7 linked regions of the Homo sapiens genome follow. The protein of the gene in region 7 purifies or fractionates together with the protein of the main gene of each other region. This does not show direct contact. Each region holds a gene or a part of one and is shown on either strand. Other genes may lie near its edges.

Region 1 (3,500 bases), on a different chromosome or scaffold from region 7:
TTTGTAGAAGCTAGCAGTATTGAAGGTTTGTACTGGTGAGCTTTTGGTAGGTAAGTGAGGGCTATATTGCAGAGAAATTTAAATCCCAGAACTAAAAAAAAAAAAAAAAAAAGGAGTTTTGGCTTTACCCTTTAGAGAGAATAGAAAGCTATTCTCAAAGCATTAGAATATTAAAGTGATATTAAGAAAGTATGTTATAACATTTATCACTTATAGATAATAAACAAAATTAGTCATTCCCTCCACAAAATAAAAAAAAGTAATAGTTCTGTGTAATGTCAAATCAAAATGATCATATCTCTCTTGAATATGTTCTTTCTCATTTTCTCATCCTCTACTTCAGGTTTGGTAACAAAGAGGAATACATGGCATTCATGAATGATTTTTTAGAACATGAATGGGGTGGAATGAAGCGCTTTCTTTTGGAGATCTCTAATCCAGACACCATCTCAAACACCCCAGGCTTTGATGGTTACATTGATCTGGGCCGAGAGCTTTCAGTTTTGCATTCCTTACTGTGGGAAGTAGTTTCCCAACTTGATAAGGTAAAGTAGGTTGGTGGAAGATAGAGAACTTTAATGTACCTGAATTCTGGAAAGTAACTATAGAGTGATAGCACTCACTCTTTCTGCTAATTGAAAGCAACTGTTTACCCTAGAAATCTGAGAGTAAATGGTCATCATTTCTGAGTAAAATATGAGATCGACAACCATGAAACTCTAGAAAACCATGACATTATTAATATATGTTTTTAATAATTATCTGAATTAATGGAGTATATTTCTCTAAATTTATATATACAGAGTGCATATCTGAAAACTTGACTAGAAACTAATATATTGGTATATACAGCCTTATGCATGTCTAATAGGATAAGATGAAACCTCATATAGTAATTTCTAATAAAAGTATAGATTTAGCTAAGAAAATACTAGGTTTATCATGTTTTAAGTAACTACCCATGAAACAAATTTTTTTACTATACAAGTCATAGAGTTTCATATAATTATTAGTGCTAACAGTCATTGTTTTCTTTCTTTACAGATGTGAATTAAGAATACAGAAAGCAATTATTTTTAATCGTTTGCTAAGAATTTTATTATATACCGTATTAATAAGTAAATATACACCATGCCAATCATTTTCTTCCTTCTGGAATTTAACAAAAAGGAATAGATTTGGTAGTAAAAAATAGTCTAAAAGACGTTGGCTAGGCTTATTACAATAATTATTTATTGATGTTTTTGTTTGCTACAGGCACTTTATAAATATGTGTGGTGGTATGTTAGAATAACTTCAAAAGACAGTCATTTTTCTATGATAATGATCTACTTATTTTCCTCTATTTTCCTATCAATAAAAATGCTATATCAGTAAAATTTGAAGGGGAATAAAACCTATTAACAAAGACCACTTTGCTGAGGAAACATATGTGGTAATGTGTCCTCCAGTGCTTAAAATATTTGTAAAACAATAAACTGTTCCTTATTCTCGAGGACCTTTTCTTCACTTTTAGAAATGCTAGCTAGATTTTTAAGTTGCAGCTATGCCAAAGATAAACCCTTTTCATGTGAATCGTAGCCCAACATTATTGAGCAAGTAAAGGCCTTGGTGGCATCTATCCCTGTTTGAGTAGGGTAGAAGAGTCTGTTGATTGTTGAGAAGGCAAAGACCCAAAGGCAGCTATGCCAAACTGACTGACAGTTGAAGGGGACCCCTAAGACCCCATGAGAATAAGAATTCCCTAAATAAAAAAATGATTGAAATGGATAAAGCAAGTATTAAAGAGTTCGTCTTTGTTGAATAACTGCATCTCAGTGGAATGCAGATTCAGTTTTCCTGTGAAATGGGCCTGGTTTATTCAGGATCAAAGTCTTTTTAACGGGCTTTGCTATGTAAACACACTTTCTCCTTTTTAATCTGTGTTTGGTCCTGGGAACCAGGAATACATCTAGACATATCTCATAGAGGAAGTTTACCTGATTTTGCTGTTAAATTAACAATAAAAATTGTCTTACTGATGGAAACTCAGTTGGCAGTGGGTCAGGGTTCCCAAGATTGACTGGGATAGTGGATGGCAGTATCATCTGTGTGCCCTGCAGTACTCTGGATTCCTGAATGAGCACCTTCTTATATGTTGGCATGCATTTCTTTTCTCACATGATCCCTTTTCTTTGAAAGTTTATCATACTAGTTGATCCTCTGATCTTGAAGTTCTTTTGGTTAGAAGGAATTTGGTTCTGCCTCCACCCTCCCCCACCTTGATCTACTAGCCTCCCAAAGATTTAGTTTGCTTCGCATGCCTATTTTAGTTGGAATGGCATTAGTTTGGTAGTTTTGAGCATGTCTTTTAATTTTTACTTGCATAATCCTGATTTCGATTTCCTTTCTTTCCTCGATGTCTGCCGCACCTTGTTTCGCCTCCTCCATTCATCTCGACGCCATGGTTCTGCTGCTCCATAACAATGCATTATGAACCTGCCACTCCCATATGCAAACACTTACCCTTCCCTCCAACCTACACCCCTCCATCAATGGCCATCGTTGTGCCAAAAACAATCTGTGGTGGATGTCGCAATGCTTATTATCCAATTAGGGTGAAAATTCCTTCCTACAGGCGACCGTGGCAAAATTGGGGCCTCTCCCTCGTGTTCTTGCTGATATTACCAAGTCATTGACTAATCCTACGCCAATACAACAGCAACTGAGACGCTTCACTGAACATAACTCCAGTCCAAATGTCAGTGGAAGCCTCTCCTCTGGGCTGCAGAAAATATTTGAAGACCCCACTGACAGGTATGAAAGAGAGAATTTGACCACTATCTCGGAGAAACATAATGTTTAGATTTAGCAGAAGTATATTCAACCTATTTGTTGAATTTACAAGTTTAAAATCATGAGCAACTGAAGACTCATCTGACCTGAGAGCAGTCCAATTATTTGTCATAATAATGCACAAGATCTGGGATGACTTATTTTCTAGAATGGTAGTATAGAGAGTTACAATATATTCCACAAGCATATTTTTAAAATTTCTGTCTTGCTTAGTGGAAGACTAAAGGCTTTATGAAATTCATGTTTCTGTACGTTATAGCATTCAAAATCTTGGAGAACCTCGGTTAAAACCATTTTATAGCTGGCTATGTCAACTGGACAGGTAGATACAATGTCGATGCTTAGACTGTTTTAGGGATTGGCAAGACTTGTGCCTTTTGCAGGGACCTTTCAGTTGTGTGCTTAGAACTTCTTCTCTTGAAGGTTTAGACAAGTAAGTATGAATTGGAATATTTGGGGAAGGTTTAAAACCTAACTAGGAAATTATTGGAATCCTGGTTAAAACTGAAGACAGTGATGGGTTGGTATCTACAGTGTTATTCTGTACCTTTGGGGAAAAAGTAAAAATGCTGGATTTTATTCTAAGCATTGTAATAATTCCCTAATTAGATAAAATCTGAGTTTCCAAAGAAATGTACGTATCCACATAAGAACCTTCGGAGGAG
Region 2 (3,500 bases), on a different chromosome or scaffold from region 7:
GCCACCGCGCCCGGCTTCTCCATCTTTTTTTTTCTTTCTTTCTTTGAGACAGGGAGTGCAGTGGCACAATCATGGCTCACTGCAGCCTTGACCTCCCAGACTCACGTGATCCTCGAGCCTCAGCCTCCCGAGTAGCTTGGACTAGAAGCACACACCACCATAGGCGAGTGTTTGTATTTTTTGTAGAGACGGGGTTTCACCATGTTGCCCAGGCTGGTCTCAAACTCCTGGCCTCAAGTGATCCGCCCACCTTGGTCTCCCAAAATGCTGGCATTACAGGCATGAGCTGCCACGCCCAGCCTTATTTCTCCATTTTACAGAGGCCTCACCTCACCCTCCAGCTACGGCTGACTTTCTTTCTTTCCCTTCACAGCTAAACTCTGTAAACAGGTATCAGTATTCACGACTTCCTAGTTCTCTCCTCCCACTCTCTTTATTTTTCCCAAGTTTTGTTTTAAAATATTTCTTTTCTTTTTATTTTTTTAAATTTTTCTGAGAAGGGGTCTCGCTCTGTTGCCCAGGCTGGAGTGCAATGGCACGATCTCAGCTCACTGCATCCTCCGCCTCCCGGGTTCAAGTGATTCTCCTGCCTCAGCCTCCCAAGTAGCTGAGATTACAGGCACAATCCACCACGCCCGACTAATTTTTGTATTTTTAGTAGAGACGGAGTTTCACCATGTTGGCCAGGTTGGTATTGAACTCCTGGTCTCAGGTGATCCGCCTGCCTCGGCCTCCCAAAGTGCTGGGATTACAGGCGTGAGCCACCGCGCCCAGACTTGTTTTAAAATATTTCAAACCTACCAAAAATTATAAGAATAGCACATGACATCCACATGCCCTCTGGACTCCCCAAGTTGATATCTACCACATCTGCTTCTCTCCCATTCTCTTCTCGGCACCCCCCTCCCCTGGGGCAGAAATCATGCTGCTGCCTAAGAACAAAGACAGTTTTCCTACAAAACCCCATAGAATTGTCGCACTTGGGAAACTGAACCTTGATATATAGTCTATATTGACATTTTCCCAAGTGTCTAAATAACGTTCTTACAGATATACTTCCTCATATAGGAACTAATCAAGTTTCACACGTGGCATTTGGTTATGTCTGTTTATCCTTTTTTTTTTTTTTTTTTTTTTGAGACGGAGTCTCGCTCTGTCGCCCAGGCTGGAGTGCAGTGGCGCGATCTCGACTCACTGCAAGCTCCGCCTCCTCGGTTCACACCATTCTCCTGCCTCAGCCTCCTGAGTAGCTGGGACTACAGGCGCCCGCCACCACGCCCGGCTAATTTTTTGTATTTTTGGTAGAGATGGGGTTTCACCGTGTTAGCCAGGATGGTCTCGATCTCCTGACCTCGTGATCCGCCCACCTCGGCCTCCCAAAGTGCTGGGATTACACGCGTGAGCCACCGTGCCCAGCCTTGTTTTTTGTGGTCTTTTATTACATTGACTTTTTTTTTTTCTTCAAGACAGGGTCTCGCTCTGTAGCCCAGGCTGGAGTAGTATGGCATGATCAGCTCACTGCAACCTCAACCTCCCGGACTCAAGTAATCCTCCTGCCTTAGCCTCCTTAGTAGCTGGGAATACTAGGTGCATGCCACTACGCCCAACTAACTTTTTTATTTTTAGTAGTGACAGATCTCACTATGTTGCCCAGGCTAGTCTTGAACTCCTGGGCTCAAGCAATCTGCCCGCCTTGACCTCCCAAAGAGCTGGGATTATAGGCATGAGCCACTGTGCCTGGCTGACCTTGACATTTTGGAAGTCTTCGAGCCAGCAGCCTCGCACAGAGCTCCTCAATGTGGATCTCCCTGGTGGTCCTCAGAAAGTTTCAAACTGAGCGTTCAGGCGGGGACACCACAGAGCTGTGTGTTCTTGCTATTTGCCTGTAATGCTGGATCCTCTGGGGACCTCTGTACCTTGTAGAGTCCCTTTTTCCCCTATAATTAATAAGTAATCTGTGGCATGGCACTTTGAGATGTCTTGTTCCCCAGTAATCTCACTCAATCAGTTGAGGTCAGGAGTTCAAGACCAGCCTGGCCAACATGACAAAACCCCATCTCTACTAAAAATATAAAAAATTGCCAGGCACGGTGGCTCATGCCTGTAATCCTAGCACTTTGGGAGGCCGAGGCGGGTGGATTGCCTGAGCTCAGGAGTTCGATAGCAGCCTGGGCAACACGGTGAAACCCCGTCTCTACTAAAATACAAAAAAATTAGCCAGTCGTGGCAGCGTACGCCTGTAGTCCCAGCTACTCAGGAGGCTGAGGCAGGAGAATTGCTTGAACCGGGGGCAGAGGTTGCAGTGAGCCGAGATCACACCACTGCACTCCAGCCTGAGTGACAGAGCGAGACTTTGTCTCCAAAAAAAAAAAAATTAGCCAGGCATGGTGATGTGAGCTTGCGGTCCTAAGAGCTTTAGCATACATAGATGATTTTAACCTAAATCAATTATTTGATTCTTCTGATGGCTGCAAGGTGGGGGATTTCCTTTTTTTTTTTGAGACAGGGTCTCACTCTGTCACCCAATCTGGAGTGCAGTGCCGCAATCTCGGCTCACTGCAACCTCTACCTCCTGGGTTCAAGTGATTCTCCTGCCTCACCGTCCCAAGTAGCTGGGACTACAGGCATGTACCACCATACCCAGCTAATTTTTAGTAGAGATAGGATTTCGCCATGTTGCACAGCCTGGTCTCGAACTCCTGGGCTCAACTGATCCGCCCGCCTCAGCCTCCCAAAGTGCTGGAATTAGTGCTGGGATTACAGGTGTGAGCCACCATATCAGCTTGGGGTCACTCTTGACATTCTCTGTTATGCCCCCATCTGGTCAGCCCGAAAATCCCGCTGGCTCCACCTTTAGTATCTGTGGCCTCAACCCAGCCACAGCTCATAAGCGTGCCACTGCCCAGCCACCTTTTAGCTAGATGACAACAATGGCCTCAAAACTGGCCTCACTGCTACCCCCATCCCCCACAATATGTTGTCCATGTGCAGCTAGAGTGGGCCCTGTTCAAAGAGGAGTCCCACTGTATCTACTCAAAACCCTCCAAGGGTTCCCATCTCACTCTGAATAAAAGCCAAAAGGGGCCAGGAGCAGTGGCTATGCCTGTAATCCCAGCACTTTGGGAGGCCGAGGCGGGCGGGTCACCTGAGGTTGGGAGTTCGAGACCAGCCTGACCAACATGGAAGAAACCCTGTCTCTACTAAAAATACAAAATTAGCTGGGCATGGTGGCGCATGCCTGTAATCCCAGCTACGCGGGAGGCTGAAGCAGGAGAATCGCTTGAATACGGGAGGCAGAGGTTGCAGTGAGCCGAGATTGTGCCATCGCACTCCAGCCTGGGGCAAAACTCCGTCTCAAAATAAATAAATAAATAAATAAATAAATAAATAAATAAATATATAAGTAAATAAAAAGGCCAGGCGCGGTGGCTCATGCCTGTAATCCCCAGCACTTTGGGAGGCTGAGGCAGGCGGATCACAAGGTCAGGAGATCAAGACCA
Region 3 (4,059 bases), on a different chromosome or scaffold from region 7:
GAATTGTGTGTCCTCTTCATTGTTCTACTACCAGGGCCTAGAACAGTGGCCCATGTAGGACCATCAATAATCACCCTTCAAAAAAAAGGGGAAGAGAACACAGAATGTCTCTAGGTACCCACAGCTGCTCTACATGGTTATAATTTGGGGGAAGCAGTGACATCCCCACTTCCAGAACAAGTTCATAACTGTGAAGCTTTAAAATATCTGAGATTTTTTAAAAGATGCTCTTGAAAGCTTTTAGAGAAAAAACAGGAGTAAAAATCACAGTAGGCTTAGATTTCTCAACAGCAAGCTGGATTCTAGAAGACAATGATGAAAAACTTCAAAATTTTGAGGAAAACTTTTTGCAACCTAGAATTCTACTCCTATGTGAACTATTACTCAAGGACAACAACATAGGATCCAGGAAACTGGAGACCCAAGAGAGCTGCTGAAGCCATGTCCACAAAAGGGCAGGGGCAAGTCCCAAGAGGACAGCTATGCAGCAGGACTAACCAGAAACCAGTCCACATTGGTACAAGATGAATGGCTAGGAAAGAGAGGAAATGAAAATGATGAATTTTGTTGCATCTGAATGTGTAGGAAAATTATTGATATATGTGACAGCTCGGTTAGAGCATCCAGAAAAAAATGAATGAGAGATGCATAGAAACCTTACCAAATGAAAAAAAAAAAAAAAAAAAAAGGAAGGCAACTGTTAACTCCAGGAAAAATAAAAAGTCATATAAGGAAGGAAAAAAAGAAACCAAGCCATTATTATAGGACCTTACTTGGCTCAACAGTGAATAATGGTAATTTTGTCATAACAATGTATACTCTGACTATTTATTGACTATTGTATGCACAGAAGGGAATTTGCAAAGTTAGGGGTACTAAAAGGAAATTACTTAGAAACAAGTAGGTACAAACAACAACACAAAAGTAGCTGAAAGAATGAAAAGTGTTTGCTGCTGGCAAGCAAGACTGTCGGATGTGGGATGTGGTAGAGAGTATTTCTTCTGAAGCCTTTTAACACTGATTTTTAAAAAAATGTGTGCATGAATTACTTTAATAAAAATTCACACACATTTAAAAAATTTCAACGATGAAAGACATTTTCCTTATGCAGTGTGAGAACTTCAGTACCCGCACTTCATTCAATTTACACAAGTTAGTTTATGCAGTTCCTATGATGCACAAAACAAGACGAAGAGTTCTTGATAGGAAGAGACCGTGTCTCTCTCCGGCCCCAAATACTGAATACAGAGCCTGGCGAGTGCCAGTCACTCTCCTTATATCTGTAAAATCAAAGTGGATGAAAGAAAACTACTTCTGAGAAAAGCTGACACGCTAGTGAGTCTGATCTCAAGATCACAGCCACCTGGACAAGCTGGCTTGCTTTAGACAGTTCCTCTCCCCCAGGCTCTCATCAAGGTAAGATACAAGCTTAGTTTCTTCCCAGCCAAAACTTACCAGCTCAGTGCCCCCACTCCCTCCGATCCCTAGTTCCCACACTGACTGGTGTTAATCCAGACCACCCACATGCACACTTGCCTTACAGGAAGGCTAAGTAGAATGGGGTGGCATTCGTCTTGCCCCAAGCCATGGATAAGCTACAAGGGGACAATGCCTGGTACCAACATTATCAATTATGTAAAACACTGGGAAATTGCAAAAGGGTCAGGGGATGTGTAACCTCAGAACTAAAGTGTGAAAAAGCCACTGGGAGAATGTTGTCAAAAGGGATTAAAACAAGACCAAAGAAGTACTTTTAGCTTATTACAGAGTTCATTCACCCAGGAGTCAGCTCTTTAGCCACAAGCATTGAGTTGTGCAATAAACATCTAAGTAACATCCTTCCCAATAGACGGCTGGGAACAGACAAAGGGGAGGTGCCCTGGTATGTTGTATTTTACTCATAAGAGGCACAGACAGTCGTTGGCACTCGAGAGCTGGTGGACCAGTCTGTCTGTACTTTCAACGCTGTGAAGCCATAGCCTGCGCCCACGATCCAGGGCACTGAGATACACTTACCTCCAGCCTCTTGCCAAATAGTTTCACAGCAGAAGGGAACTTTTCCTTCTTGAACCGGCCCCTTAAAAGTTTCTAGACACCTGTGCTCCAAATGCCTGCTTGATCCTTCTCAACCGGCTAAAGTCCTGCAAGGAACACAAAAATGAATAAGACCGCAGGCAGCTGACATTTCAGGAGAGGGCAGAAGCTCAAGGCCCACAGTAGGAGTCAAGCAAGAGGCAGAAGGTCCAGTGCTCAGGGCTTCAACAGCCGCATGTCAGGGAGGACGGCGGACAAGCCAGTCCCATCGCAAAGCTGCTGTGCCTGGCTCAGCACTGACAAAGAGGGAGGCGAACAACAGGTGGGGCAGGAGAAAGAGCCGCCGCGGAGCGCGGCATGGGGCCAGGAGCCGACCCCGGAGCCAGGCAGCCTTCGCCCGGGGAAGCTCCAGACAGCGCGGGGACAGAGCATCCCTCAGACGCCGGCTCGTGGGGGAGGGGGACTATCCACGCCTCCGCCCCGCCTCCCCGGAGCCCCAGCGGCCCCTCGCCTGTGAGCTGGACCCTCTCCCCACCTGCGCGCACGCCCCCTACCCCTGACCCCACCCTCGCCCTGTGAGTGGGCACCTGCTCACCTGGGCAAGCGCCCCCCACTGCGCACACCTTCCCCTGGCCTCACCTGCGCACACCTTGGCCACTCACCTGCGCACACCTCGGCCCCTCACCTGCGCCCACCTTCCCCTGGCCTCGCTTGCGCGCGCTGCTCCACGCCGCCTACCCTCTAGCCAGGGGTCGGAGTCACCCGCAGGGCAGGGGCGCCCGCCCCCGGATGATGTCAGCGATTGCCTGCCAATCGGAGGCGGACCCTGCACGCCCGGCGGCTCCGCGCCCCGTGATTGGTCGAGGAGCCTGAGCTGACTCCGGGCCCACCGCGCCCGCCATTCGGCAGCGGCCGGACTCGAGATTGACGGCCCAGGCCCCGCCCTGCCGCCCCACCGGCCCGCCCGGGCCCTAGTGGGTGGGCGCAGCCTCTGGCGCTTCTTCGGGATCCCAGCTGACCAGCTGGGGGTGGGGCGTGGCGGAGTGGCCACGTGGGCCGCGCGGAGAACGCGCCAGGCTCATCACCTGGATCATCGTGCCTCAGTTTCCCCCTCGGCAAATGGGGCTTCAGCGGCTCGCGACGCACATTGATGGAGCGTATGTCCAGGCGCCGGTGCACCGCAAGGAGCAAAACAGACACAGTTCTTGGTCCTAGGGCTCACGTCCCGGGGCGAAGAGGATCCTCCATAAACGATCAGGTAAACACATGGGTGTCAGGGAAGGCTCGCCGCTGGGAGACCGCCAAAGTGACCCGAGATGGAGTCTGGGTGGCCTGCTTATTAGGGGGGCACACCTGTGCGAGGACGGGAGGGGAGGGAGCAGCAGGACTGGGCAAAGGGAGAAGCTGAGCCACAGTGCGAGCCGGACGCACGGGCCACGTTGCGAGGGCATGACCTGGGGCGAGGCAGCCCTGGAGGAGGGGGCAGCTGAAGGTGTCTGCTGACCCCACACCCAACAGCTCGGGTAACAGGCCTTACTGTCAGAGCGATCTGGTTGCCACGTCTCTGTGGCCCTCAGAGAGACATCATGTTTTCTTTTTTCCCTGCACCTTTTTGTTTTGAAAAATGTTCAGCATACAAACAAGTTGAACGTAAAGTGAGCACGCAGATTCCTAGGTTCAGCAGGGGTGAGCAGCTGGCCACGTTTCATTTCTCTCCCTCTGTGTTTATATATGTGTATTTTTCTTTTTTCCTCCCCACTCAGCCCCCACCATTAGCTGCAGATACCGTGATACCCCCCTCCCAAATACTTCGGTATCCAACTCCTTAAGAACAAGAACCTCCTATATTACCAAAATACAATGACCACATCAGTTCAATGCTGTTATCTATTTTCCATCTCCAGTTTCCCGCGGTTGTCCCAATAATGCCCTTTACAGCCCTTTTGTTATTGTTGTTTTGTTTTGCTTTGTTAAGACGGGGGTCTCTGTCACACAGGCTGGAGTGTAGTGGCACGATCACAGCTC
Region 4 (3,500 bases), on a different chromosome or scaffold from region 7:
TAGTCTTTATTCTCATTGAGCTACATTTGTTTGGCTAGGGGAAGCAGACCAAAAACAAAGTATGTGGTATGTGGAGTGATGCTAGGTGTTATAAAGAAGACCTTTAAAGTAGGGCTGTGGAAGGGGGATATAGTAGAGGGGGAGAGGGCTGTTTTATACACGTATAAATGGTATACACCATTTATACACGGTGGTCAGAGAAGCTCTGATCAGGTGACGTATGTACAGAAAGTCACTGTGGCCTGAGTAGAGTCAAGGAGAAGGAGCAGCAAGAGTTGAGCTTAGGGAGGTGGAGAAGGGGTGGAATAGATCAAGCAAGGCCTTGGCCCTGGTAGGGATCTGGGATTTTGAGTGAGAGGACAACCGTTGGGATGTTTTGAGCACAGAATGGTTGTAAGAAGACACGATTCAGGAGGACCACTTAGGCCTCTGTGTGGAGGGGGCAAGCGCTGCCACCCAGGCCCAGGAATGTCAGCACCAGGGTAGGCTCTGGGGACTGCACAGGGGTGATTGTTGCTGGAGACTTAAGTGGGAGGAGGAGAAGAGGGGCTGGAGATAGAGAACCATGGGAGGGGCCACATTCAGGAACTTACTGTGTCGTATCTGGAGGATAAGAAATAAGTAAGCCTTGGGCAGCATGGCACTATTGTTGCTTTCATGCACTGTGTCTGTAACCGGAGAAAAGTTATAGGGTGCGTCTATTAACCGATTGGCCTTTTGGTGAAAGCATTTTGAATACATTTAGAGATTTTGCCTATTAAATTGGCAAGTTCTAAAAATGGACTTACTACAACATAAATTTTTTGTTCTGACATTGCTGTTGGCTACATCTGCCATTTTCAAAACGGGTGGCAAGACATTAATTTTTTTGCTAATTGTGCAAAAGAATGTATAGCCTTATATTCCCATTAGAGAGAAAGTGCTGTGGACATTAGATTCAACTGATGTCCATTTATTCAAGAAATATAGTGTCTTGTATGGGCCAGCTATTAAGCTAAGTGTTGGGTATTTGGTATAGAACGAAAGAAAATAATTCATTCCTTTTAAAAGCTTATATCCTAGTGGGAGAGACAGCTATTAATCAGGTAAATATGTCCCATTCCAGCAGGTGTAGCTAAAAAAAAAAAAAAAAAAGACAAATTTAAAAAACATAAATATGTAAATTACAAGTTTAGTAAAGTGTTATGAAGGAATAAAAAAGATTCCATAATAGAGAACAATCCAGGTTATGAGAATCAACCAAGAAAGGGTGGTTAAGAAATGATCATATTCTGTTATTATGTAAAACAGCTAATATTTATTGGCTTCATATGGGTTAGGTATTATTTTAATCCCATTGCATGTAATTGTGCAGTTATTTGAAGATGGGGAAACTCAGACACTGAGGTGAAGAAACTACCCCAGGGGACAGGGAGTGATAAAGAGAGGCTGGTTAATAAGTACAGACATACAGTTAGGTAGAAGGAGTAAGCTGTAGTGTTCAGCAGCATGGTACTATGCTTAACAGTTTATTGTGTATTTTATTTTTTATGGTATATTTTAAAGTAGCTAGAAGATAAGATTTGAGATGTTCCCAGCACCAAGAAATGAGAAAAGTTTGAGGTGATGGATATCCTAAATACTCTGATTTGATCATCACACATCCTATGCATGTAATCCAAATATTACACATACCCCATAAACATGTACAATTATTATGTATTAGTTAAAAAAATTAAGGAAAAAAAAAAGAAACTAGCCTGGGATGATATAATGGTCAGTAGTAAAGTCAGGAGTCAAACCAAGGTAGTCTGGCTCTAGGGTCCATACTTTTGACCACTAGACAGCTTCGTTTTAAGCCGAAAGGGCTTTTGGAAGTGAACGTTGAACTGAAATGTGAAAGATGAGAAGCTGTAGTTTTCCTCCTGTGATGAAACATTTTTTTTTCTATTGAAAATGAACGTAGACTTAATACATCAAGTAAAACAATATAGCACAAAGACGCGTGAAGGCAAAGCTAATCATCTCCTCCTTTTAGTCCTACATGGTAAGATAACGAATTTTACAGCCAGGTGTGTGTCCTTCCACACTTTTCTTTTTGTTCATGTGTACACACTGGATAGATACATATATGGGGGTCTTATTTATTTTATCAAGTAGAATTATACTACACACGTGCTCTTAAACATGACAGCGTGTCATTGGTTTTACTATTGTGTGTATCAACAGATGTGGATTTAATGTTCTAATTTTATTTTGTAATTTCTAGGCACTTATATATGTGCTTACAAACATCTTATGACATTTAATAATCAATTATTCAGTGAAATTTATTAAACACTGTCAGTGCCCTCTAGTCAAAGACTGCCAGGAACATACCTCTAGTTGAACAAAGTTGGTCTTATTAACTCCCTGCAATGAAGGAGAATGCCTGTCCTAGGGAACGTTGGGGGTCTCTGTAACAGGTTGTTAGAAAGGACTTAGAAGATTCGAGATGATGTTAGGTGATTCGGGGAAGAGTTCAAGGAAGCAAAGCTTTGCTCAGTCTCGGGTGCTTCAGGAATAAGGAGGAGTGGGAATTCTGCAATTGGATATTTAAAATCTTAACGAAAAGGCAAGAGGTATGGAGTAAGGCTAAAGCTGTAATTGATAAAGAAGCAGCAATGCTTCATATTAGCCACGATAGGAAGATGTTTGGGCATTTTGTGGTTTGGGTGATGTTCATGTTTTTGTCTATGTTCAGATATGATTCCAGAGTAGTCTTATTTTTGTCTTCATATCCTGGTGACAGAGTGACCTTGTTTGATGTTGGCATTCTTTGAAATTGTTGCATTTATGTTAGAACACCAAGTCTGGCTGTGTGTGCCGGGTCAGTTCCCGACAGTCAGGGGCTGCTTTTCTCTCTCACCTCCTGTTGTGTAGGCATTGTGCTAGATATAAAGCAGATCCTGCTGCAAGAACTTCTAGTCTAAGGGAGATGTGGAGAGAGTGAGTAAAATGGAGAGGAGAGTTGAGTGTGATGTGAGCAGTCTACAACTAGATGTATACACAGGTGTGGAGGAGCCCAGGGCCTGGCCCAGCTTGGGGTAAGCAGCCAGTCAATGAAGGCTTCCAGAAGATCTGTTAGAGCCATGTTCTTAAGGATGGGTAGGAGCTGTTCAGGCATATATACGTGGAGAATGGACTTTCTAAGCAGAGGGGGCATTAAGTGCAAAGGTCTGGAAAGAACAAAGTGTGGGGCAGTGAAGGAGCTGCAAGTAGATCAGTCTGGCTGGAGCTGGAGGTGTAGATGTGACTATGTAGAGGGTGGGAGGGATGGGGCTGAGGAGGGGAGAAAGATAAGGCTGGAATGGTAAGATGGGGCCAGATTGTGAAGAATCTGCATGCCCTCATCATAATCAAGAATTGAACTTACTGAGTTTTCACTCTGCTCAGTGGAGAGCAAAGCTTTCCGTAGGAATTGTGTATTTGCATCTTTACAATGGCTTTAAAAGCCTTAGAAGGCGTAAGTTCCTTGAATA
Region 5 (3,500 bases), on a different chromosome or scaffold from region 7:
CATGTTATTGACAATCAACAAAGGTGGCGGGATCCCTGGAACAACAACAACAACAAAACATTGCTAGTATCTCTTTCTATCACTAAGAAATGTTCAAATTCTAGTAGCCTTAATTTCTACTCTATGTGCAGGGATGTCCTAGAGATCAGCCTAAAGTCGTTCATAATTTCTTTGAGGAATACAAAAGAAATCTAGAATTAAGAAGGTCCCATTTTACTGCTTGCCACACATAATGGGCAGAGTCCTTCATATGAGCCCTTTAGGCAAAGGAAAAAAATCAGCAAGCATGTATTGATGGTCAGCAATGTAAATAGCACAGCGTTAAGCATCAAAGGAGATGCAAATAAGCCTATGAATGGTCCTTGCCAAAGAAGGACTTATATTTCCGTTTTATGTCACTGTTGGCTTTTGTTCTGACATTGGGTTTGGGATTTAGTGACTGTCTTTCTCCTGGTTGTAATATTTATTCGGTGGTGGGCATGGCTTATGGGTGTGCTTTATGAAGTTTTTGCACCTGCAACTCAGGTCAGTACCTTTCTTAAAAGAACACAAAAGAAATAAACTTGAAACAGTCCAAGTGATTTTAGATATGGGCAATGGGTCAACCTCCAGTTGATATATGTCACTGAGGGCCCTGTGTTTGCCCAGGCAAGCGTTTCCTTGGTGCAGTGATGAAAATCCCAATGCACAGGTGAAATTAAGAAATAACTTAATAATGGAGTAAAATGGTAACTTTAATTTAATGACCTTTACAAGGTAGCTAAGTATTTCCTTGTATAAATTTGATCTGTGTTACTTGAGTAGGCTATTCTAGATAGGCTTCTTTTTCTTTTGTGGTTACAACTAGACTACAGGCTATCATAGTGTTCATTTTCCCTGCCGTCACATTTCTTGACACACAGTTAGGTGCTTTTGGTTACTGATAGGAGCATTGGGATTCAAATATTCTTTTTTCCATGTCTCTGTGTTCTCTGGTTTTCTGGAGTGACTGGGAGCAATGCTGCAATTGAGCCTGGACAATCCAGGATAGGCAAAGTTTTGGCTCAGTCTTCACCTTGCCACTTTACCTTTGATGATTATACTGAGAAATAAAGGGTCTTCAGAACCAAATAGGGGCAAAATAGAATTCTTCTGTATATTTCTATCAATCAGAGGAGAATTGTGTGCACAAACCTTGGTCTTCCTATGCACCTATCCATCTGACTCTACTCTAGCTAGATTTTCCTTGCTAGCAGATAACAGGATTTGTACCGTAGCTTCAAATTAACACTGGATTCATTCCTCATTGAAACAGAGCAGAGTAATTCTCAGAGCTTCTCTACATCACATGAAGGCTTGGAAGAAGATAAAGACCATCCAACAACTTCTACTCTGACATCAAGCAGTAAGGATTATAAAACCTAGTTGGCTTCAGCTATTGATAAGAATCAATCAATTATGGGTACTTTTGCAGTGTCTTTGGTGGAGGTGCATCCATTAGCTGCCGTTACACTGTTACTTTTAATCAAAAGGTGCGTCTGGTGGTGGTTCTCTGATTTTTCTGTTTTATATACCTCTTCGTACATTAAGTGCAAACTACATTTCTTCATCTTAAAAGTTGGGTTTCTTTCACTCTAGAGTTAGTGATTTGTTTTAACAATAATGGATTGCTTATATATGATTTATTTTATTTATTTATTTTTGTTAACTTGAGATCTTTCTAACTTTTTTATGTGGGCGTTTAAATTTAGTGCTATAAATTTCCCTCTTACTACTGCCTTAGCTGTGTCCCAGAGATTCTGATATGTTGTATCTTTGTTCTTATTAGTTTCAAAGAACTTCTTGATTTCTGCATTAATTTCATTATTTACCCAGAAGTCATTCAGGAGCAGGTTATTTAATTTCCATGTAATTGTATGGTTTTGAGTGAGTTTCTTAGTCTTGATTTCAAATTTGATTGCGCTGTGGTCCAATAGACTGTTTGCTATGATTTCAGTTCTTTTGCAGTGTGATTTATAATTGGCGTAAATGTCTGATTATATCACTTTACATTCCTCACAATAATATTGTTTTGCCTTTTGTCCTCTGGACCTCCATGGTGCTGATGACTAAAAAGCAGTCCCTTCTGGAAAAGAAAAGAATAATTAAATTAGTAGCCTCAGGCCTTTGAAACCATGCATTTGCTATTTTAATTGCAGGCAGCAAAATTTTATCTTTCAATCCAATGATATGTTTCCTCCACTACATCAAAGATGAATCCAATTGAGAAAGAACTCAAGATTATCTAGTACCTCAGCTGACTTCAAGATCACAGTTGTAGTGACATAGCCTTACCTAATAACCCAAGCAGATGTTGCAACAAATGCCAATTCTGGGTATTAAGATCACCAAAATCTCTTCTGTTGAGTGATGTCCAAGTAGTGTCTATTGCAAAATATTTATTCTGTTCAATAGTATGACAAACTTCACTCTATTTCTCCCTATTTATGGATAACAAGTGGAAAGCTTTTGCAGCAATTGTGTGTTCTGGAGACAAGCACATGGTGGGTGGTGATCTTACAAATACGGGTTCATCACTGATTCCACCTCCACACAGATAGGAATGATGTCACAGGTGGAAGAAGAGACCCAAATCATTCTGAAGGCTCAACTACTTTACTGGAAGGTTATACCTCTCATTACCCACACACGAAGGAAAGCAGGACCTTCATCCCAGTGACCTCAGCTAAGACTGGGTCCTTTGGAGTTACTGCAGTTACTGTTGGAGATTCCAACTCTAATGTCAATCGTTCCTTATCAGGTAATTTGGCATTTATTATCTAGTTTGCTTTCTCTATATAGAGAAACAATATATAGTTTCATATTACAGAGGACATTTTCTGTGTAGTCTGGGATTGGACTAGTTTGTGATATGGAAATATCTTTCATTATTGGTTATCAATTCTAGTGCAAATAAACTTGGGTATATTTTAGATAAAAGAATGCTTCCTTTTGCCAGTGTTTTTTCCATTTGTCTGTGTTTGCATGTGTGTGTGTGTGTGTGTGTGTGTGTGTGTTGTGTGTACAAGTTGGCTGTTATGATGGAATTGCTTTCTTTGTCTTATCTTGTGATATATGAAGTTGAACCACATGAAACTGATATTTTTGCAGGTGAAAGTAGTCGAATTTTAGCAATTCCGTTTAATTCGACTAATATACTCTACTTATTTTGTAAGGTTTTATCCTACAGGTGAATAATTTCTATATACTAGTATCTTTGCTCTGAAATTATTATCTTGTTTTGGTAATAGATTGATCAGTTTTACTTTTGGTGATGGATAAACCTCTTCTAGTTCTGATGCACACTTAAAATGTTCATGATTTAATCTAGTATTAATGAATAGGGACCACTTCTCTTATTGTAATAGTGAAGAGAGGAACGAAGATAATTTATTCAATGAAGTTTGACACGGACCTAGAATAAGTCTTTTTTTTTCTCAAATAAGTAGTCATCTCTGCTTCTGCTTTTCTTTGCTTCTCCA
Region 6 (2,876 bases), on a different chromosome or scaffold from region 7:
GAGGTAATAAGGACTTAGCAAGCAGTTCTCCTAACCAATACATTAATTCACTTGAAAGTCATACTTTTAAAAAAAATCAGTAGTGTATATGTTGAGGAAAAAAAGCATGTTCACTCTGGAACAAAGTTGGCCCTCTATGGCTCTCAGATGCCTAATGCTCTACAGTTTTGTGAGAGAATTGTTAACTGTAAAGCTGTAAAGGCGGTTATTGGTACTATAAATGTACACTTGATTCAAGTACGCTGAAACACACACATGTAACAGCTATTAGGACACTGTAACCGTCCTCTGTGTATTTTAAGGCCAATAGTAACAGAGAGGAGGGAAAAAAATAACTACCAAGAAAATAAAACTAATGGGTAGATTCACACTAAGAAAATCTAGGTAATTATATAAATTCATTGTTATGAGGTTGTAGAAAGGACAGTTATCTCACGACATATGGAAAATTGGTGAATTTCCTGTGAGACTATGATTTATGCTTTTGTGAATGTATACCTGATCTAAAATTAGACAAAACATTTATTTTTAGACACCAACTAATTGGAAAATATAAGGAAAGAAATAATTATCTCCCAAAATTGACTATTAAAAAATAATTTTTAAGTACAGTACTAATAAACTAAGGATGACCTAGAGAGCATACCTTTAGCTATTATTTAAAAATCTTTTTTTTTTTTTTTTTTTTTTTTTGAGATGAAGTCTCGCGCTCTTGTCCCCTAGGCTGGAGTGCAATGATGCGATCTTGGCTAACTGCAGCTTCTGCCCCTTGGGTTCAAGTGATTCTCCTGCCTCAGCCTCCCGAGTAGCTGGGATTACAGGCGCCTGCCACCACGCCCGGCTAATTTTTATATTTTTAGTTGAGACAGGGTTTCACCATGTTGGCCAGGCTGATCTCGAACTCCTGACCTCAGGTGATTCGCCCGCCTCAGCCTCCCAAAGTGCTGGGATTACAGGCATGAGCCACCGTGCCGGACCTATTTAAAAATCTTTTTGAAGTACAGTACTAATAAACTAAGGACTACCTAGAGATCACACTTTTAGATATTATCTATTTTAACATAGATTAAAAATACTGTTTATATGAAAATTAAGCTTAAATACACGTATAGGTAATAATTATTTTGCCCATATACAAGTAATGTAAACAGAGGCTATCAAGGTGACCCATTATCTACTCTAATTTATATCCACTATGAGCTTCTTCCCAGTTGTTATACAATGCCATATTTTAATTCCTGACTGAATGGTTAGGAAAGCAAAATGTAACTCTGTAAACTTGATCAGCACTAATGTACAACATATTATGGAGGGTAAAGTGAAGCAAGAATATATTCAAGTAAAATAAAATGTCTTTCATGGGCATTCAAATCCCACATCTCTCTATATTTCTTTCCCAACTAAGAGCTATAATTAAAATCCCATTTATTATTTTTCTATAGTTCAGAATCAACGTATAAAATATGATGAAAGTGAAACTATCTCCCTATATATCACATCATATATATTGTGAGAAAGTCACTTGTTATATATGGATATTTCAATTAACTCATAAATTTTTAAAAACATATCCTCCATACTTATTTCTAACAGAAAAAAATAACAGGAATTATTTTACTTTACTCACATGGACAATGCAGATTTTGTGGGGGTAGAAGTGTACACAACTTTGCTGGTCTTCTTCAACAAAATTAGTACAGAATTCCTAATACAAAGTTAGGTTCAGGACCTCGAATGGAACATGTCTAAGTGAGAGGCACTGAAGCTTAGGTTTCATTAGCTTCCTGCGAGATCCACCTATGCACAGCAAACAACTAATTTTTAATATTTCTCTGACTATATTGCATAACATTAAAATATTGTTACCTTCAGTCCATACTATCTTTCATTTCCTGATTCTCTGGCCTTCGGTTTTTTATCTTTTCATACCTTATACCTCAATTACAAAAGATCAACTTTAACAAAGGTCAGAGTTGCTCCCTTTCTTAGCAGTATATTCATCTGCAAATCAAGATAAAATAATGATTTTCCTGTAGACTGATTACAGTTCATGAGGAATTCTGTTATGTAATTATACTCTTGTTAACCCTCTATTGATATGTCAAATTGTAATTGGGGAAACAATTTTACCAGACACATAAGACGAACAGGAAATCTGTTTCAACGTGAATATCTTAGTGTTGGAGAAACCGTCATGCATTGCTAACGTAACCTAATAAGCTGTCCAAATTTTGTGTCCACAGGGCTGAGGAGCTACAGTCTAAATGCATACGCATGTTGGGAACCGAAGTCAGCCATCTTCCCTAGGACAAATCTTTACTCTTCTAAAGAAGGACAAGAATAAGGTCTACTTTCAGCTAACCATTTATAAGGTTCAGTTTTCATTGGATCAAAGGAATATAATCTAATACTTTTTAAATGGGGTCAAAACAGTATTATAAGGAAAATATTTACTGCAAATATTTATAATTGTGTAAGGAGAATCATTCTTTTTAAAATCAAGTTGTGTTTTAGCTTTAGAATCTTTTAAAATCACAAGTATTTGAGAATCCATCCCCACAAAAATTAAAAAATACTATATTAGTTATTTTAAACAGTATTCATTACTTTTACTGTTTATGTTATAATAAACTTATGTATATAAACATTTGAATATGCATGGTACAAAGTACAAGTACAGAACATGTAGTAAGTAGTATGTGCATGTATGTGTGTGTGTGCATATCGTATAAAAATATGAGAAAAATTTTACTTATATAAAAACATATATATAAATAAGTGTTCAGGAGAGTTTTTGAGAATCTGCTTTACATACTGCAATTTTGAGTGAAAATTATGGATATTAATTTCCTGATTAAAGGAACTGTGTCTTCTCA
Region 7 (3,113 bases):
GCATCCACCAGATCAGGGACACTGCTAAACATCTTGGGCTGCATAGGACAGTCCCTCACAACAAAGCATTATCCAGTCCAAAATGTCAATAGTTCCAGGGTTGAGAACCCCTGCACCCCTGCTCTCGGGCTAAGGAGCCCTTCCTTGGTTTAGTAGGTCTTGGGTGGGGCTAGGGCAGGGGGATGGGGGAAGAGAGAAGCTCCTTCTTGGAGGAGCTGGGGAATGGTGGAGGCAGCCCCTCTGCAACCCACAGAAAGGGTCCCAGGACAGCTTTTCTCTCATTATCATCAACCAAAGGGCTCAAGCACGGTGGCTCATGCCTGTAATCCCAGCTCTTAGGGAGGCAGAGATGTGAGGATAGCTTGAGCCCAGGAGTTTGAGACCTGCCTGAGCAATATAGCGAGACCCTGTTCTCCACAAAAAGGAAAAAAAAAAAAGACCAAAAAAAAAAAATACCAATTGTAACAACTAAAGAAAACAGAAAAAAATACGGAGCCAAATTCTTTATATGTATTATATTTTTCATTAATAAATAGGTTTTCTTCATTAAACACAGAACATATAACAGATTGAAACACTCCCCCCCTCCCCCCAATTCCAAAGACAAGAGTCTATAAAACAAATGCCAGCTGTACTACCCTAAGGGCAGAAAAAGTCTGGTGACCCCCACCCAGCCCTGCCCCTGCAGCACCACCACCCCCACACTCTGCAAGAGAAGGGGGTCTGGGGCTTCTCCCTTGGACCCTGGGGACTTAGGTGAGAAGCATGTGAATGTATGATGTCACCTCTCCATGAGGCATGGGCTATGCAAAGATGAGGTTTCCTTCTCATTGGCTCTGACCAGCTCCTGCACTTCCGATTGCAGTTACGAAGCACCTGGGCTAAGCCCCCAAGGGAGCTGCCGCTCCACTTCCCCACTCTCCGTTGCTGCCTCCTTAGAGGGGAAGGGAAGGGCTCAGGGACCCCTCCCATCCCCTGACCTGCATGGAAACGCTGTGTGGAAGAGGCATGAAGCTGAAGGTGAGGCTGCTGTAGGCCCCCAAGCCCATGAGGCCAGCATGCCCCCCGTCCCCCACAGCTTTCCTTCCTCTGGAGCGGGGGGGGCACTGGGGTAGTCGCCCCCTCCAAAATCTAGTGCCTGGCTTGGGGTATGATGGTTCTCTCTCAGCGTCAGGTCCTCATGCCGGGCCTGGCTCCTTCCTCGCCCCATTCCTGTCTCCTTCCAAGCCCTCACCGTGGCCATCTGAAAAACTCATGTCCAGTGTCCTAAATTGTCTCATCCTCCCTCTCCCCGTGCCTCTGCACCCCAAGGGAGGAAGTAGGGGGTTGTCTCCCCCCTCCAATTTCCACTTCACATAATGGAACAGCTTTTGGCCTTTTCCTTCTTGAAGGTAGAAGAGATGAGTTCAGAGCGACTGGGGAGGTGGAGCAGTCGTTTGGAGAGGCTTCGGACAGGGCTCTTCTGGGGCAGTGGGCTAGGCTTGTTCAGACACAGCATGGATGCCGTCCGAAAGATGCTGTGGATGCTCTTTTCTGAGGTGAAAGCTGAGCCTTCCAGGTAGATTTCTGCACCCAGCTGCTTTGCTATTGCACAACCCTGCAGGAGGGGGTGAGGGCATTAATGCAGTGGGCCAAAATGGCTCTGGGACGCTGCCTCTGTGCGTCACTCCCCAGGGCCACTCCAGAGGGGACCCAGCTGCCAGTCTCCAAACACCACCCTCTGCAGATTATTCGATTATCTTTTCTTTTTTTTTTTTTTTTTTGGCATACACCCTGTCTGATGATGCCTCTTTTTCTTAAGACGATGCCTGACTGCACATTATAAATCATCTGGAATACTCTTAAAACTATATTGATGCCAAACTAAATTAGAATTTCTGGGGATAGCTGGGGCAGTGGCTAGTGCCTCTAATCCCAGCTACTCAGGAGGCTGTGATGGGAGGATCACTTGAGGAGGCCAGGAGTTCAAGACCAGCCTAGGTGGCCGGGCGCGGTGGCTTACACCCATAATCCCAGCGCTTTGGAATTACAAAAATAAATCTCAAAAATAAAGATAATAAAATAATAATAAACACTTTTAAAAAATGTTTAAAAATTCACTGGAAGTGGGCACACAACTATAGTCTCAAATACTAGAGAGGATCCCTTGAGCCCAGGAGTTCTGCACTGTAGTGAGCTAGGATCACACCACTGCACTTCATTCTGGGTGACAGAGTAAGACCCTGTCTCTGGAAAAAAAAAAAAAAAAAAAAGGAAAAGGAAAAAAAAATTCTGGGTATAGAGCCAAGGCATTAGTATTCTTCTTTTTCTTTCTTTTCTTTTTTTTTTTTTTTTGAAACAGTCTCGCTCTGTTGCCCAGGCTGGAGTGCAGTGGCGCGATCTCGGCTCACTGCAAGCTCTGCCTCCCGGGTTCACACCATTCTCCTGCCTCAGCCTCCCGAGTAGCTGGGACTACAGGCACCCGCCAACACGCCTGGCTAATTTTTTGTATTTTTAGTAGAGATGGTGTTTCACCATGTTAGCCAGGATGGTCTTGATCTCCTGACCTTGTGATCTGCCCGCCTCAGCCTCCCAAAGTGCTGGGATTACAGGCGTGAGCCACCGCGCCTGGCCGGTATTAGTATTCTTAAGAGCTCCCCAGGTCAGGTGCAGTGGAGGCCAAGGCAGGTGGATCACCTGAGGTCAGGAGTTCAAGACCAGCCTGGCCAACATGGTGAAACCCCATCTCTACTAAAAATAACAAAAATTAGCTGGGCGTGTTGGCAGGCACCTGTAATCCCAGCTACGCAGGAGGCTGAGGCAGGAGAATCTCTTGAACCCGGGAGGCAGAGGTTGCAGTGAGCTGAGATCGCACCACTGCACTCCAGCCTGGGTGACAAGAGCGAAACTCAGTCCCCCAACCCTATGCTCTCATGCACATAAGAAATTATCCAGGGGTCTTATAAAAAATGCAGATTCCAGGCCAGGTGTGGTGACTCACAACTGTAATCCCAGCACTTTGGGAGGCCAAGGTAGGAGAATCACTTGATGTCAGGAGTTCAAGAACAACCCCGGAAACATACTGAGACCTTGTCTCTACAAAAAATGTTAAAAGATTAGCTAGGCGTGGGGCC

What was found.
Region 1: the proteins of RND1 (region 7) and RASAL2 purify together in Homo sapiens (affinity purification with mass spectrometry, with the first as the bait; one large-scale study listed by BioGRID). This does not show direct contact.
Region 2: the proteins of RND1 (region 7) and PLEKHG5 purify together in Homo sapiens (affinity purification with western blotting, with the first as the bait; 2 studies listed by BioGRID). This does not show direct contact.
Region 3: the proteins of RND1 (region 7) and DHCR7 purify together in Homo sapiens (affinity purification with mass spectrometry, with the first as the bait; one large-scale study listed by BioGRID). This does not show direct contact.
Region 4: the proteins of RND1 (region 7) and KIDINS220 purify together in Homo sapiens (affinity purification with mass spectrometry, with the first as the bait; one large-scale study listed by BioGRID). This does not show direct contact.
Region 5: the proteins of RND1 (region 7) and CD44 purify together in Homo sapiens (affinity purification with mass spectrometry, with the first as the bait; one large-scale study listed by BioGRID). This does not show direct contact.
Region 6: the proteins of RND1 (region 7) and SLC7A11 purify together in Homo sapiens (affinity purification with mass spectrometry, with the first as the bait; one large-scale study listed by BioGRID). This does not show direct contact.

What each region holds. Positions count from the first base shown.
Region 1 is NC_000001.11:178,454,104-178,457,603, forward strand, and holds part of RASAL2 (ras GTPase-activating protein nGAP), read left to right. Parts: intron 1-343; coding exon 344-545; intron 546-2,596; coding exon of another isoform or gene 2,597-2,617; coding exon 2,618-2,796; intron 2,797-3,500. UniProt on the Homo sapiens protein: Inhibitory regulator of the Ras-cyclic AMP pathway.
Region 2 is NC_000001.11:6,478,168-6,481,667, forward strand, and holds part of PLEKHG5 (pleckstrin homology domain-containing family G member 5), read right to left. Parts: intron 1-3,500. UniProt on the Homo sapiens protein: Functions as a guanine exchange factor (GEF) for RAB26 and thus regulates autophagy of synaptic vesicles in axon terminal of motoneurons. Involved in the control of neuronal cell differentiation.
Region 3 is NC_000011.10:71,445,594-71,449,652, forward strand, and holds the start of DHCR7 (7-dehydrocholesterol reductase), read right to left. Parts: upstream 2,801-4,059; 5' UTR 2,697-2,800; exon of another isoform or gene 2,684-2,696; intron 2,142-2,683; 5' UTR 2,017-2,141; intron 1-2,016. UniProt on the Homo sapiens protein: Oxidoreductase that catalyzes the last step of the cholesterol synthesis pathway, which transforms cholesta-5,7-dien-3beta-ol (7-dehydrocholesterol,7-DHC) into cholesterol by reducing the C7-C8 double bond of its sterol core.
Region 4 is NC_000002.12:8,831,114-8,834,613, reverse strand, and holds part of KIDINS220 (kinase D-interacting substrate of 220 kDa), read left to right. Parts: intron 1-3,500. UniProt on the Homo sapiens protein: Promotes a prolonged MAP-kinase signaling by neurotrophins through activation of a Rap1-dependent mechanism. Provides a docking site for the CRKL-C3G complex, resulting in Rap1-dependent sustained ERK activation.
Region 5 is NC_000011.10:35,208,671-35,212,170, forward strand, and holds part of CD44 (CD44 antigen isoform 1 precursor), read left to right. Parts: intron 1-947; exon of another isoform or gene 948-1,294; coding exon 1,295-1,384; exon of another isoform or gene 1,385-2,104; intron 2,105-2,575; coding exon 2,576-2,779; intron 2,780-3,500. UniProt on the Homo sapiens protein: Cell-surface receptor that plays a role in cell-cell interactions, cell adhesion and migration, helping them to sense and respond to changes in the tissue microenvironment.
Region 6 is NC_000004.12:138,166,474-138,169,349, forward strand, and holds part of SLC7A11 (cystine/glutamate transporter), read right to left. Parts: 3' UTR 1-2,876. UniProt on the Homo sapiens protein: Heterodimer with SLC3A2, that functions as an antiporter by mediating the exchange of extracellular anionic L-cystine and intracellular L-glutamate across the cellular plasma membrane.
Region 7 is NC_000012.12:48,856,645-48,859,757, forward strand, and holds the end of RND1 (rho-related GTP-binding protein Rho6 precursor), read right to left. Parts: intron 1,598-3,113; coding exon 1,352-1,597; 3' UTR 501-1,351; downstream 1-500. UniProt on the Homo sapiens protein: Lacks intrinsic GTPase activity. Has a low affinity for GDP, and constitutively binds GTP. Controls rearrangements of the actin cytoskeleton. Induces the Rac-dependent neuritic process formation in part by disruption of the cortical actin filaments.